Homo sapiens: one gene and its partner. The protein of the gene in region 1 purifies or fractionates together with the protein of each later gene. This does not show direct contact. Each region holds a gene or a part of one and is shown in the gene's direction. Other genes may lie near its edges.

What was found. Proteins that work in one complex are often made in the same cells at the same time.
Region 2: the proteins of LIPC (region 1) and ATP4A purify together in Homo sapiens (affinity purification with mass spectrometry; 2 studies listed by BioGRID and IntAct, with this or other methods). This does not show direct contact.

What each region holds. Positions count from the first base shown.
Region 1 is NC_000015.10:58,427,046-58,435,238, forward strand, and holds the start of LIPC (hepatic triacylglycerol lipase precursor), read left to right. Parts: upstream 1-4,945; 5' UTR 4,946-4,987; coding exon 4,988-5,075; intron 5,076-7,855; exon of another isoform or gene 7,856-8,193. UniProt on the Homo sapiens protein: Catalyzes the hydrolysis of triglycerides and phospholipids present in circulating plasma lipoproteins, including chylomicrons, intermediate density lipoproteins (IDL), low density lipoproteins (LDL) of large size and high density lipoproteins (HDL), releasing free fatty acids (FFA) and smaller lipoprotein particles.
Region 2 is NC_000019.10:35,548,838-35,553,863, reverse strand, and holds the end of ATP4A (potassium-transporting ATPase alpha chain 1), read left to right. Parts: intron 1-34; coding exon 35-158; intron 159-681; coding exon 682-827; intron 828-2,283; coding exon 2,284-2,417; intron 2,418-2,752; coding exon 2,753-2,854; intron 2,855-2,938; coding exon 2,939-3,030; intron 3,031-3,220; coding exon 3,221-3,249; 3' UTR 3,250-3,833; downstream 3,834-5,026. UniProt on the Homo sapiens protein: The catalytic subunit of the gastric H(+)/K(+) ATPase pump which transports H(+) ions in exchange for K(+) ions across the apical membrane of parietal cells.

The sequences.
Region 1 (8,193 bases):
TGTGTAACCAAGAATTACTTGGAGATCTTGCTTAAAATGAAGGTTCACTGGGCCTTGACCCTAGTGTTGATTCCATTACTCAGTATTCCTGGGATGGGCCCATAAGTTGTCATTGTCTGAGCTCCCCAGCTGACTCTTATTCTCATGCTCAATTGGATTTTGCAGCCACTGATCCAGACCCTTGTGTTTTCCTGCCCCTTACATTTTTTGCTACAATTATATCACTGTGGTCTTATTGTTATCTACCTCCTGGACACCTTCGTGATCCCCTCAGTGAATTTAAACATTAAAAAAAATTAGCTACCATTAATTATTTCCTGTGGCCTAGGATTGCTGAGGGCTTCACATGCATTGCCTCACTTAATCAGACTAGGGAGGTATTATTAGTCCCATTATACAGGTGAAGAAAACTAAAGCTCAGTCACAATGTCTTATCCAAGTTCACTCAGCTAGTAAGCACAAGTGACAGACTAGGAATTCAAGCCTGTATCTGTCGGATTCCCAAGGCTGGACTCTTTTTTTTTTTTTCTTTTAGAGATAGGGTCTCACTCTGTCACCCAGGCTGGAGTGCAGTGGTGTGATCATAGCTCACTGCAGCCTCCACCTCCTGGGTTCAAGTAATATCCCTGCCTCAGCCTCCCAAGTACCTAGGACTACAGGTGTGTGCCACCATACCAGGCTAATTTTTTGGTTTTTATGTTTATATAGATGGGGTCTTGCTATGTTACCCAAGCTAGTCGCAAACTCCTGGCCTCAAGTGATCCTCCTGCCTCAGCCTCCCAAAGCACTGGGATTACAAGTGTGAGCCACTGCCCACTGCACCCAGCCTCAAAGCATGGACCCTTGACCACTAAGTATATTGCCCACAAAATAGGTCATTATAATTTATTGACCCTCTACTATGAACCAGGCACTTGGCTTGACACCTTACACACAAATCTCTAATATTCATGGCATACCTCTTTTCCTAGAGGTATTAATTTCAGTCCAGAGATTCTGATGTGCAATAAATTTCTCTATTCTCTGTAACCCATCTAAATTCCTGACTCTTAACCCCTATTTTCAGGCCTTCTGGATTTCTTCTCCCCACCCCACCCCCAACCCCAGTAGTTATGCCATAGTTCTGGACAAATACAATAGCCAGGCATGGGGTCAGGGGAGTGTGACCTAGTCCTCTGTCATCAGTCCACATTGGTGGCCACTGAGGGGCCCATCCTCCCATCAACATGACCTGCTGGCCCCAGAGACTCACTGCTCTCCCACCCTACATCAAGCCAGGTATATCTTTTGCCCATGTGCCAACACAGCCATTTCCTCCCTGGGTTCTTCTCTTCCAGCAGGATTTCTGGGAAGCAAGGTACTGTCCCCTCTGCTCTCAGACCCATAGACAAACCTCCCCCTTCCACACCACCTGCAAAGCCCAAGAGAATGTCTTTCTAGTGATGGCAAGGTGAGGGGTTCCTTCTCCCTTCACATCCCCTCAAGAAATGTTAGTCTTTTGCTTTTCTTTGTTGGCTAGAATTCACCTGCCCACACTTTGGGAGGCCAAGGCAGGAGGATCACTTGAGCCCAGGAGTTTATGGCCAGCCTGGGCAACATAGGAAGACCCTGTCTCTAAAATAAATAAAATAAAATAATATAAAATAAAATAAAATTCACTTGCCCTAAGGTCCTATATTTTTGGAAGACAAAAGATTTGTAGCCTTCTCTCTACTTTGCCCCTCTTAAGTGGAAGGGAGACAGTTTGGGAGAAAAATAAGTTGATATCTCAAAATATTATCTCAGATACATGTTGTCCCCATTTTATAGGTGAGGAGATTGAACTCATTAAGGTTATATAATATTATATACAGCAAGTAGATAGGCCTAGGACCCCCCCAGTTCAGGAAATCTCATACTCTGTGAAGTCCTCCCCTCTTCCCTGCCAGTAGCCTCCCTGGTCAGCTTCAAGAAAACACAACAGAGCTTGTGCATTAAAACCACCACTGGAAGGTCAGACCCGGTGATGGGGCAGGCTGGAAGAGCTTAGGTAGAGGTGAAAGCAGACAACACCCTGAAAGGGGACAGGTACCCACTCCTCCTTGTCATTTTCCAGGAGAGCCTTATAGAATTTGAGTTGGCATGAGATGATGTTAGAGGAATTTGGGGTGGTGCAAGTAAAGGAACTACAAGAGCTAGAAACAATCTTGAAGGCTTCTTCCCATGTTGAAAGTGTTCTTACCACGTAGAAAGTGGTAAGAAAGTGTACTCTGCAGAAATTTGGGGGGCGGGTGGGGGCACACGGTTGGTATTTCAGAGGCACTTGGATTCACTGGTGTCTTTTGATGAGTTTGTGTCCCGAATAAAATGGGGAGTGGCGGTGGTTACTGGCAGTACCCAGAGGAGAGGAGATGAGGGTGGGCACAGGGGAGAGGAGCCCGAGATGGGTAGCCAGCTGGTCTTACGTGCCAGCTTTATAGGAAAAAAAGTGGAACTTTCAGATTCTGCTTAACTGTGCAGGAGCCAGCCAAGTATCCAAGGCAGAAGTCCTTGCTCAGAAATTGTATATCTGATGGGCACGGTGACTCACGCCTGTAATCCCAGCACTTTGGGAGGCCGAGGTGGGTGGATCACAAGGTCAGGAGTTAGAGACCAGCCTGACCAACATGGTAAAACCCCGTCTCTACTAAAAATACAAAAATTAGCCAGGCATGGTGGTGGGCACCTGTAGTCCCACCTACTCTGAAGGCTGAAGCACTAGAATCGCTTGAACCTGGGAGGTGGAAGTTGCAGTGAACCGAGATCGCGCCACTGCACTCCAGCCTGGGCGACAGAGCAAGATTCCATCTCAAAAAAAAAAAAGAAAAAGAAAAAGAAATTGTATATCTGACGGGATGGTCCGCAAGCTTCGGGGCTTGGGAGGAAGGTACAGTCATAGGACAGAACACAGCTTTAGACTGGGTCAAGATCGTCCAAGTCTGGTGGTGGCTTCAGAAGGCCCTTTGAATGAGGCTCGTCCAGGCAATAATTACCATGTTATCTAATTTTGCCCGCTTAACGTTTCCACTTGGATGTCTAAGAGCCATCTCAAAGCCCCACGTGGCCAAGGCTGAATCTCTAATCTTCCCCCAACAGACCTGCTTCACTCACAGCTTCCCCTTCTCAGCTGACAGCAACCCCATTAATCTGCTTGTTCAAGCCAAAAAACCTGGAAGTCATCCTTAACTCCTCTCTTTCTCCCACATCTCACAACTCAGCAGTCAGAAAATCCTGTGGGCTCTACCTTCAAAATATATCCACCACCCATCCACCACTCCGCAGTTGCCCTTTACCATGCTGGGCCACGCCACCATCACCTCTCACTGGGCCACTGTAATAGCCTTCTAACAGATCTCCCCACTGCACCCTGGCTCACTTGCAAACCAGAGTGATATTTTAAAACTATAATACAAATCATATCACCCTTCTGCTCAGAGTCGCCCCCCATGTGTCAATGCATAAAAGTCAAAGTCCTTACAATGTCTCCCCATTCATTGGCCTCCTTGCTATTCCTGGAGCACACCAGGCATACTCCTACCTCAGGGCCTTTGCACAGACTGCCCGAAGCTCTCCTCCCCAAGACGTCCACAGGGGCAACTCCTTCACTTCCTTCAAACCTTTGCTGAAAGTTTAACTTCCCAATGCAATTCACTCTAACCACTCTGCTTAAAATCCCTACCTTCTCCCCAACCCCCTGCTTTTCTTGTAGTGGTTCCCATTACATTCTACCAGTCTACCTAATTTTTTTTTTTTTTTTTTTGAGACGGAGTCTCTCTGTGTCGCCCAGGCTGGAGTACAATGGCGCGATCTCAGTTCACTGCAACCTCCGCCTCCCAGGTTCAAGCGATTCTCCTGCCTCAGCTTCCTGAGTAGCTGGGATTACAGGCACTCACCTCCACGCCCAGCTAACTTTTGTATTTTTAGTACAGATGGGGTTTCACCATGTTGGTCAGGCTGGTCTCGAACTCCTGACCTCGTGATCCGCCCTCCTCGCCTCCCAAAGTGCTGTGATTACAGGAGTGAGCCACCGCTCCTGGCCAGAAATCTCTTCTTTATTATGTCTACTGTCCGTTATCCAACTCCAGAAGGTAAGAACCTCCACTGATACATAAGGACTTGTATACCCCACGTGCCTGCAACAGTGCTTGGCACCTAGTAGGCATACCAAAATATATAAATGTTGAACAAATGAAGAAAGTTAAAGTAAAACTAGAGGTCCAAAAATATCACAAAAGCCATCTATGGTCGCCTTTTCCCTACCTGATTTTGCTGAGTGGCCTTACTTTTCAGTCCTCTACACAGCTGGAACATTAATGAACACAGAGGGGGAAGAAGTGTGTTTACTCTAGGATCACCTCTCAATGGGTCACTTGGCAAGGGCATCTTTGCTTCTTCGTCAGCTCCTTTTGACACGGGGGTGAAGGGTTTTCTGCACCACACTTTGACCACAAGCATCACCAATTTCACTGAACCCAACAGAAATTTGGACCCTCTGGGGGCTCTCTGCGTGGCAGGGCCCTTTTCTTTTTCTTTGGGCTTAGGCTGCAATTTGAAACACCACTTTCCTGAGCCAGCATCCCCCTTGCAGCGCTGTCACAGGGAGGCTTAGGCAGCCACGTGGAAGCCACCTACCCCGACCTTTGGCAGAATTTCCAAACACAACACAGTAGCTTTAAGTTGATTAATTTGGAACTCTGACCTTGGCCCCAAAAGGTAAGAATACATAACAAGGTATTTTATTCTCAAAATGTGTCAGGATAAGAAGCACTTCTGTAAATCGACCTTTTTAAAATAGATATAATTAGATTTGCAGTTGGGGGCAGTAAAGAAAGGGTCTGAACAGTGGATAACATGTTGAGAGGTTAATTATTAATGGGCAGTCTTCCCTAACAAAGTATCTAATAGGCATTGTGGTCTCTTTGGCTTCAGAAATTACCAAGAAAGCCTGGACCCCGGGTGAAACGGAGAAATGGACACAAGTCCCCTGTGTTTCTCCATTCTGTTGGTTTTATGCATCTTTATCCAATCAAGTGCCCTTGGACAAAGCCTGAAACCAGGTAAGAGCCTGACTTTTCTCCAGAGATGGGCATGAACTTTTCTTTTTAAAACGTGTGTCACAAAGAATCCAGGGGTTTCTGACTGTATGGGACAGAGCTTGCTTCAGAGCGTGCCAGGTGGTTCTATACACGACCTCACAGGTTCACAGGGACACGTAGCCGTTTGTAAACAGAAATGAAATTTTAGAAAATCATCCTCGGATTAAAAGTCTTCTAAGAGTGCCTGCAGCTAGCAGTGAAGTCTCTTGCGTATCTGATATGGAAACAGTCATGCTAAAAGTTATTCAGCGGCAAATGATATGAAAGCGATTCAGATCTTCCTGAGAGTTAATGTGGCATCTAATTTGCAACCGGGGAGCCAGGCTTGCAATGAAATGCTCTGTCGGGTTGGGGTTGTCTAATTGCCTGCCTCTCTCAGAAGAGAGGGGAATTTATGAGAGTTCTATTTCCAGTCAGGTCTAAAGTAGAGATATCATTGCACAATTTCTAGACTTTGTTTTGCTGCCAAAATTTTAGTCTGAGGCTGAAGAATCCAACAGCCGTCCTGCCTGTTTTGTTTGTAAATTCACAAACTAGATTGATGGCGAAAGACAGATCAAATGCCTTATCAGGAAGGTAGTAGAGTGGAGCCCAGCTTCCAGGCTAAGCAGTGGACCAATAAATGACGGATCAGTTAATTGAACAATTTGGCCAGACTAGACAGGTGTTTGGGAATTTGTTTTGGTACTGGTTACTGGTCAGGAGCTAGTAACGCTAAGGTAGAGTCTGAGATTTTTCTTTTCTCTAAGACTAGCCTTGGAGAGAGCTCCGACAACTTTGAGAATTAGAAATTCCCTAACGGGATGTACCTAAAAATTTCAGAAGCTTTTTTCCCCTTTAAGAAAAAGGCTGTTCCTTTGTATTTGACTATTTTACTTCATAGGCCAGTTAATAACTGAGTAGCAGTATTAATTATTGCCATTCACTAAGTATTTTCTGTGCCAAGCACTATACTAATTATTTTTGACACATCATCTCATTTATAAAGCCACATCCAAAAATGACCCTTACATAATAATTTAGAGCCATACAGGTAAAATTGCTGGTAATCTTTATTCCCTTGGTTCATAGTGATTTTGCTAAAGGGCCTTTCCTGCCCTTTGCCCCGGAATGTTGTATTTGTTTGTTTACTTTTTAATGAAGTTTATAACACACTTCTAGAAAAGGGCCTCTATCATAAATCCTCAATGAGTTCTCACAAACTGAACCAGTACCCCAAAGCCTTCCTTGTGTGCCCCTTGAGCCTTAACATATATGATTTTTTCCTTTGGGGAGATTTTTCATTAATAGAAACACATCAGTTGCTCTTTTGCGTCTGGCTTCTTTCGTTCGACATTATGTTTGTGAAAGTCAACCATGCAGTTTCGTGGAGTTGAGGCTCATTCATTCTCACTGCTGTAGCATTCCACTGCGGGACCATGCCACACTTCCTTTATCCATTCTACTGTGGATTGGCCAGGACTGTTTTTGCAATGGAGCCATGGGAATTGGAAGCTGTCAGTGCTGAGATAGAGGTTGAAGGGAGGGATGGCCTCCCCCAGGCTTCTGGGTATTGTCCAGATTTTCCTTGAGCAATCTCATTGTCCTGATCAGCCTGCTTCTTTCCCCGGGGCCTAGTTTGTGCAAATGCTGAGAGAAGTGGCCACTATTAGCAAGAGGGTTCCTCAGAAAAGAGGATCCAAGTCAGGAGGCCTCTTGTTCTCTTGGAAGCAGAATCTCTTGGCAGAATTCTTTCTGCAATGAGTGAGCCCAATCTGTGTGCATGTGGCTGGTATGATGTCTTTCTGGGGAAACCGCAGGGAAGCCGGTGTCCTGTGGTGGAGCCCTTGTCAGGAAAGTTTCTACACCAATGGTTCTCAACAGGGGCAATTTTGCCCTCCAGGGGACACTTGGCAATGTCTGGAGACATTTTTGGTTTTTGGTTGTTAAGACCAGGGAGAGAGTGCTTCCCTTCCAGCATCTAGTGGGTAGAGGCCAGGGAAGCTGCTTCACATCCTACAATGCACAGGACAGCCCTCACAACAATGAATTGTCTGGCCCAAAACATTATTAGTGCAGAGGCTGAGAAACCATGATCTATGCCAAGCTTCAACTGTCACTCATCGAGCACCAGGAAGTACTCCCTCAAGGACCCTTCCTCTTTAGCCCCTCCTCCCAGCCTACTTCTTTTGAGTATTTATTATTAATGACATCTTACTAATGGAGTCACTAATGTGCTGCACACCCAGCATGTGCCAGGCACTCCACGGACATTTTATCTCATCCTCACCATATGGTTGAGTAAGCTGGCAGTTAAGTGCCTTGCCGGCGGTCGCATAGCTGGTCAGGGCAGAGCAGGGAGAGGTACCTGCAGCCTCAATCTGTCTACTGAGGCCGCAGTGCTCTGTGTCGAGCCCACACCCAGTGATTTGACAGCCAGAGGTTTCTAGAAAAACATTCTGCTCAGTTCCTCTCACAGAGAGGGAGATTTAGACAGTTGTTCCTGCCCTTCAGCACTAAGGGGGACTGGATAGCGTGAGCTGCTTGAAGCCCACATGGCACATCACACTTATGCCCAGCCCCAATGCCTGAGACCCAGGTTCCCCAGTCGGTGTTGCCATGAGAGCCAACGCTGCTCCTAGACCCTGGCAAGTCCCACCTTCCCGGTACTGGGCCCACTATCAACAGGCACCTTCTCCCTCCCCTCCACCCCAGCCTCAGCTTGCAAATCCTAGGAGCAGCTGAAAGCTACCTATTCAGTCAGTCCCTCATGAGTGTCACAAGCATACATGAGCACCTGCCATACGTAACGCAGTGCCTGAGTACAACTCACACACTCTGTTCACACGTTTCCTCTCTTAAAAATCACTGAGGACCCCAAACAGTGTTTATTATGTGAGATATCAATATTTCCTTCATTAGAAATTAAAACTGAGAAATCTTTAAAATCTGCTAACACTTTTTAAAATGATAATAAACCCTTGCATATTAACACATATAATGTAATTTTATGAAAAATAACTTGTATTTTCCAAATAAGTTTTAAATGGAGAAGAGTGACATTGTTTTACAAAGAAATGTTGCAAATCTCTCTAATATC
Region 2 (5,026 bases), on another chromosome or scaffold:
ACCCTCAGTCCCAGTTCCTTCCACTCCTGGCCAGTTCCCATCTGTGTCCCTGGCATATGAAAAGGCCGAGAGTGACATCATGCACCTGCGTCCACGCAACCCAAAGCGTGACAGATTGGTCAACGAGCCCCTGGCTGCCTACTCCTACTTCCAGATTGGTGGGTGCCCGTGGGCCGGGGAGCCTGGAGGTGGGGGGCTCTGCGCTGGGCTGCTCGCCTGCCCCAGGCCCTGCCTTGGGCTCCGGCTGGTTCTGGACCTCAGTGTCTGCATTTGGTCCTGGGTCTCCGTTGTCCTCCGTGTCCCTCTCTGTTTGTGACAGTCTCTCTGGTTCTGCTGTGTCCCTGCTCTCTCTCTGACCTTGCTCTCCATGACCCTGTCTCTGAGTTGTTGCCTATTTCTGTCTTTTTGGGTCCTGGATGTGTCTTTTTCTCTCTGTCCCTGCCTCTGTCTCTCTGTCCCTGCTTCTCTCTCTGCCTCTGTGTCTCTGTCACTGTTTCTGTGTCCCTGGCTCTGTGTGTCCTTGACCTTGTGTATCTGTGTCCCTGTCTCTCTTCCCGTGTCCCTGTCTGTGTGTCCTTGACCTTTGTGTATCTGTGTCCCTGTCTCTCCATGTCCCTCTCTTCCTGTGTCCCTGTCTCTGTGTCCATCTCTGTCTCCCTGTGTCCCCTTGTCTCTCTCCAGGTGCCATTCAGTCCTTTGCTGGCTTCACTGACTACTTCACGGCAATGGCCCAGGAGGGCTGGTTCCCACTGCTGTGCGTGGGGCTGCGGGCGCAGTGGGAGGACCACCACCTACAAGATCTGCAGGACAGCTACGGCCAGGAGTGGGTGAGCCCTGCCCCGCCCCATCCCATCCCTGGGCTCCCTCCTTCCCAGGGCAACTTGCCTTGTGTGCGGCCCACTTGTTCCTCCACGTGTGACTGAGTTCAGCCAGAGCATCCCGGACCCCCAGACTCCCTGCCAGTTCGGGGGGGCAAGGGCCTTTCCCACCATCTCCAGCTCCAAACTCCTGCTTCTGATGATCGCAACTGCAGATGGGTGTCTCTGCCCTGACACTAATGCATCATCTCAGATGTGGAACCAGGCCCCTATTCTGCTATTTTCCCTACAGCATCACTCCCACAGGGTATTTGCACATGTGGTCTATTTTAATGAAGGTTTGGAGCACAGTGAGGCTAGATCTGGCCAGCAGATGTGTTTAGTTCACCTGTAGAGTTACATACAGACGAGGATACTTCCCTTAAACATTTACTATCATGGTTAAGGTAGACACTGAAGCCAGACTGCCTGGACTTATGGTCTGGTACTGCTTCTCACAAGCTGTGTAACCCTGGGCAGGTTGCTTTGCCTCTCTGTGCCTGTTTTCTCACCTGCAAAGTGGAGAGAATATCAAAGTCTACCTCAGTGGTTTTCAGTTTGCTCCCAGACCAGCAGCATCACCATCTCCTGGGAACATGTTTGCAGTGCAAATTCTCAGGCTCTATCCCAGCCCTCTGGGAGCCCTTGCTGGGATTCTCATGCATGTTCAAGTTCCAGCACCACTGATTTACCTCCTAGGGTTACCCAGCGGATTAAATGAGCTAATGCACGTGCAACACTCGGCACCTGGAGCAGTCAGTGATCCCCACAGTTAGCTGGTATTAGGAGTTGTGTTGCCAGGCATGGTGGCACATGCTTGTAATTCCAGCTACTTGGGAGGCTAAGGCAGGAGAATCTCCTGAACCTGGGATTCGGAAGTTGCAGTGAGCTGAGATTGCACCACTGCACTCCAGCCTGGGTGACAGAGCGAGATTCCATCTCAAAAAAAAAAGTAGCTGTGTTGAAGAAATGGGCTGCATAGTGGCTGCCCCCTTTAAATGGGGCATCTGCCCTCTTTTCCCAAAGGCCCGCGGTGACTGCCTCACCTATTTTTGCCATCTGCCTGGCCCCTGGAGTCACTGGACTTTGCAAATCCCATCTGAGGATTTCAATTCCCCTTTCCCAGGCCCTTTCTTTTGGGTGCCTCCCCCCTTTCACTATGAAAGCAGTCGGCCCAGCCTACAGTTTTCCCGGCCACTGTCATCCAAGCTCTGCTAGGCTGAGGTTTCTGGGCCCCACGTTCTGGGGTCCTGCACACCTGGCAGACCCTGCCTCTCTCCTTCCCCCCACCCCCACACTCTGATGCAAGGCAGAGAGAGCATTTAGGGGTTCACGGCCCTGGGACCCTATGCCCGGTGGGCTGCAGAGGCTCTCCGCCGGGACTCAGGCTGGACTCAGGCTGTTTCCGTTTGCCCCTGGCCTGCAGACATTCGGGCAGCGCCTGTACCAGCAGTACACCTGCTACACCGTGTTCTTCATCAGCATTGAGGTGTGCCAGATCGCCGATGTCCTCATCCGCAAGACGCGCCGTCTCTCTGCCTTCCAGCAAGGCTTCTTCAGGTGTCCCTGGCTGGCCCTCTTCCTGCCCTCCAACCCCTGGTCCCAACTCCCATCAGATCCTGACTGTGGTTTAGAACAGCCGGCAAATGCCAGCGGGTGCCAGTGCCAGATGGTGACATGCCAAAAAAACCTTTCTAACTGGCCAATAACTCCCCCCACGGCCCCCTCCACATTTCACTAAAGGGGTGGTGCTGAGAGGCCCGGGCCACTCCAGTGTTCAGTGTGTAGAACACCTCCCTGCTGCTGCTGACATCTGACCTACTTTGACCCACAGTATCCTGATTTCCATCACGTCCCCAATTCCTAATGGCCTGTCCCATTCTGCCCACCCCCAGGAATAAGATCCTGGTGATCGCCATCGTGTTCCAGGTCTGCATCGGCTGCTTCCTGTGCTACTGCCCCGGCATGCCCAACATCTTCAACTTCATGCCCATTCGGTGAGAGGCTGTGAGGGGCAAGGACAGGGAGGGGGCTGTAGGGCACAGGCCTGGGATGGCCTTCACCTTGCCATGTGCCTTCAGGTTCCAGTGGTGGCTGGTCCCCCTGCCCTACGGCATCCTCATCTTCGTCTATGATGAGATCCGGAAGCTTGGAGTTCGCTGTTGCCCAGGGAGTGAGTGTGGAGACTGGGAGCCTGGGGGCAGGGGACTGAAACGTTTGAGCAGCTGCACCCACCTTTGATCCTCAACACTTGGCCTCTAAGCCCTTGACCCTCCATAGCAACCAGCACTGACCTCTGAGCCCCTGGCCCTGCCTAAGTGGCACCCCCAGCACTGAGTCTCCTTTCTCCCTCTCTCTCCCAGGCTGGTGGGACCAGGAACTCTACTATTAGAGGGACGACTGCCTTCAAGCATCCCTGCAACTGCCACAGCAGGTGGGGGCAGGGCTCGTGGGACCCTCTGGACAGCCACCAAGATATCTGAGCAACCAAGAGTCCCAGCCCCACCAGTATCTGCTTCTGTAGCCCACGGCACCCCAAACTTGGAGGGACCTGCCCACTCCCCTCCCCCATTCCCAAGGTTCGCACCTCCTGGAGCAGCAGCGCCTGGGCAGTCCTCTGGGCTGGCCTCGGGAAAGCCGCCACCTGTGGTGGCGGTGGGGCTCTGACAGGGAGTACAGCTGACCGCTTCTGGAGGGTGTTTCTGTTCTTAGGACTCCAGTCCAGGCTGGACGGCTGCCTGAGGGCCCTTCGTTAAAGACACGCTTGTGTCCTGGGCGATGGTAATAAAACCAGCTCATGCTGACTGTGCTGTATCTGGTGCCAGGCACTGTCCTCAGCGTCTCTCATTAGTGCTTGTGATCTCCCACAGTCCTGTACATGGGGGCTGTTTATCCAGGGCTGCACCTCCAGTGCCTAGTACACAGCCTGGCACATAGTAGGTCCTCAATAAACCTGCCTTGGGGAAATGATTCCTATTCCTTTGCCCAGGGTCATGGCATCTAAACGCAAGCTGGGCCGTGGCGATAGGCACCCCCTACCACCTCTGGGCTTTCTCTGTTCTCAGCACCCTTCTCCCTCCTGGAGGCTCCCAGACACAAGGGGGCCCAAGTCATTTCCACATCAAGCATCCCCCACCCCCCAGCGGTGTCTCCTTTCTGAGCCTACCTGCTTACTCCTCTGTCCCGGCAATGGCCAGTTCCTGAACAACTCCTGGAGGTCCCCTCCTCACACCCCTCACCTGAAAGGTTAACCCCATCCCCCTACCTCCCATCTCTGCCGCTCCTTTCCCAGCCCCTCTGTTCACCTCTCTTCCTCTTTCTTATGTGGCTTTCTCTGGCTAGGGCCTGGGCTTCTCCTTCCTTGTGACCACAGCCCCCCAGTCCCCCATGGCTTCAGTTGTTTCTGCAGTGAGACCCACCTCTGTCCCCAGCTTCCCCCAGTGTTGGTGACCTACACTGGCCTCTTCATCACCCCCCATGCCTGTACCCATGCACTGACCCAATCTGATAGTCCCACTGTCCCATCAGTGTGGTCCCTTCTCCCTTGGAAACGTGGTGAGCCCTCGGGCTTACAAGCCCCAAACTCCAGTTATCCTGGAACTCTTTGCTCCTCCCTTACCTGTTAGCGCCCCCTGCCGGTAAATAAATACACACAGCCACTGATCACCAACACCTGGGCTTGGCTTCTAGTCACTCTCCTAACCCCACAAAGCCCTGCCCTGGTCCAGCCCTGGCCTCGTGGCCTCAGCTTTCCCATTTCAGACAACAGCCATGCAGAGCTTCCTAAAGCCAAATCTGACCCTGTCCTTCCTCTGCCTAGAGCTCTCCTTGGTTCCCAAAGCCTCCTGTGATCTGACCCCTGCCAGCTTCTGTAGTCTTACAAGTCCCCTTGAACTCATTCCAACCAGTTATGTTCCCTTGGGAAAAACAGGCCCCCTCTCTGACCTCAAGACCATTACCTCTGCCTTGCCCCAATCACTCATTCTTTAGGTCTCAGCTCACATGTCCTCTGCTCAGGGGAGCCCGCACTGCTTCCACGGCAGGCCAGGCGGCTCCTCTGGGTCCCCATAACCCGGGGTTTTCCCATCATAACCCCGATCACCTGAAGCCTGGCTCCCCACAGTCCAACCGCCCAGGCTTCACCGTCCTCTGCCAACTCAGGCCCAGCC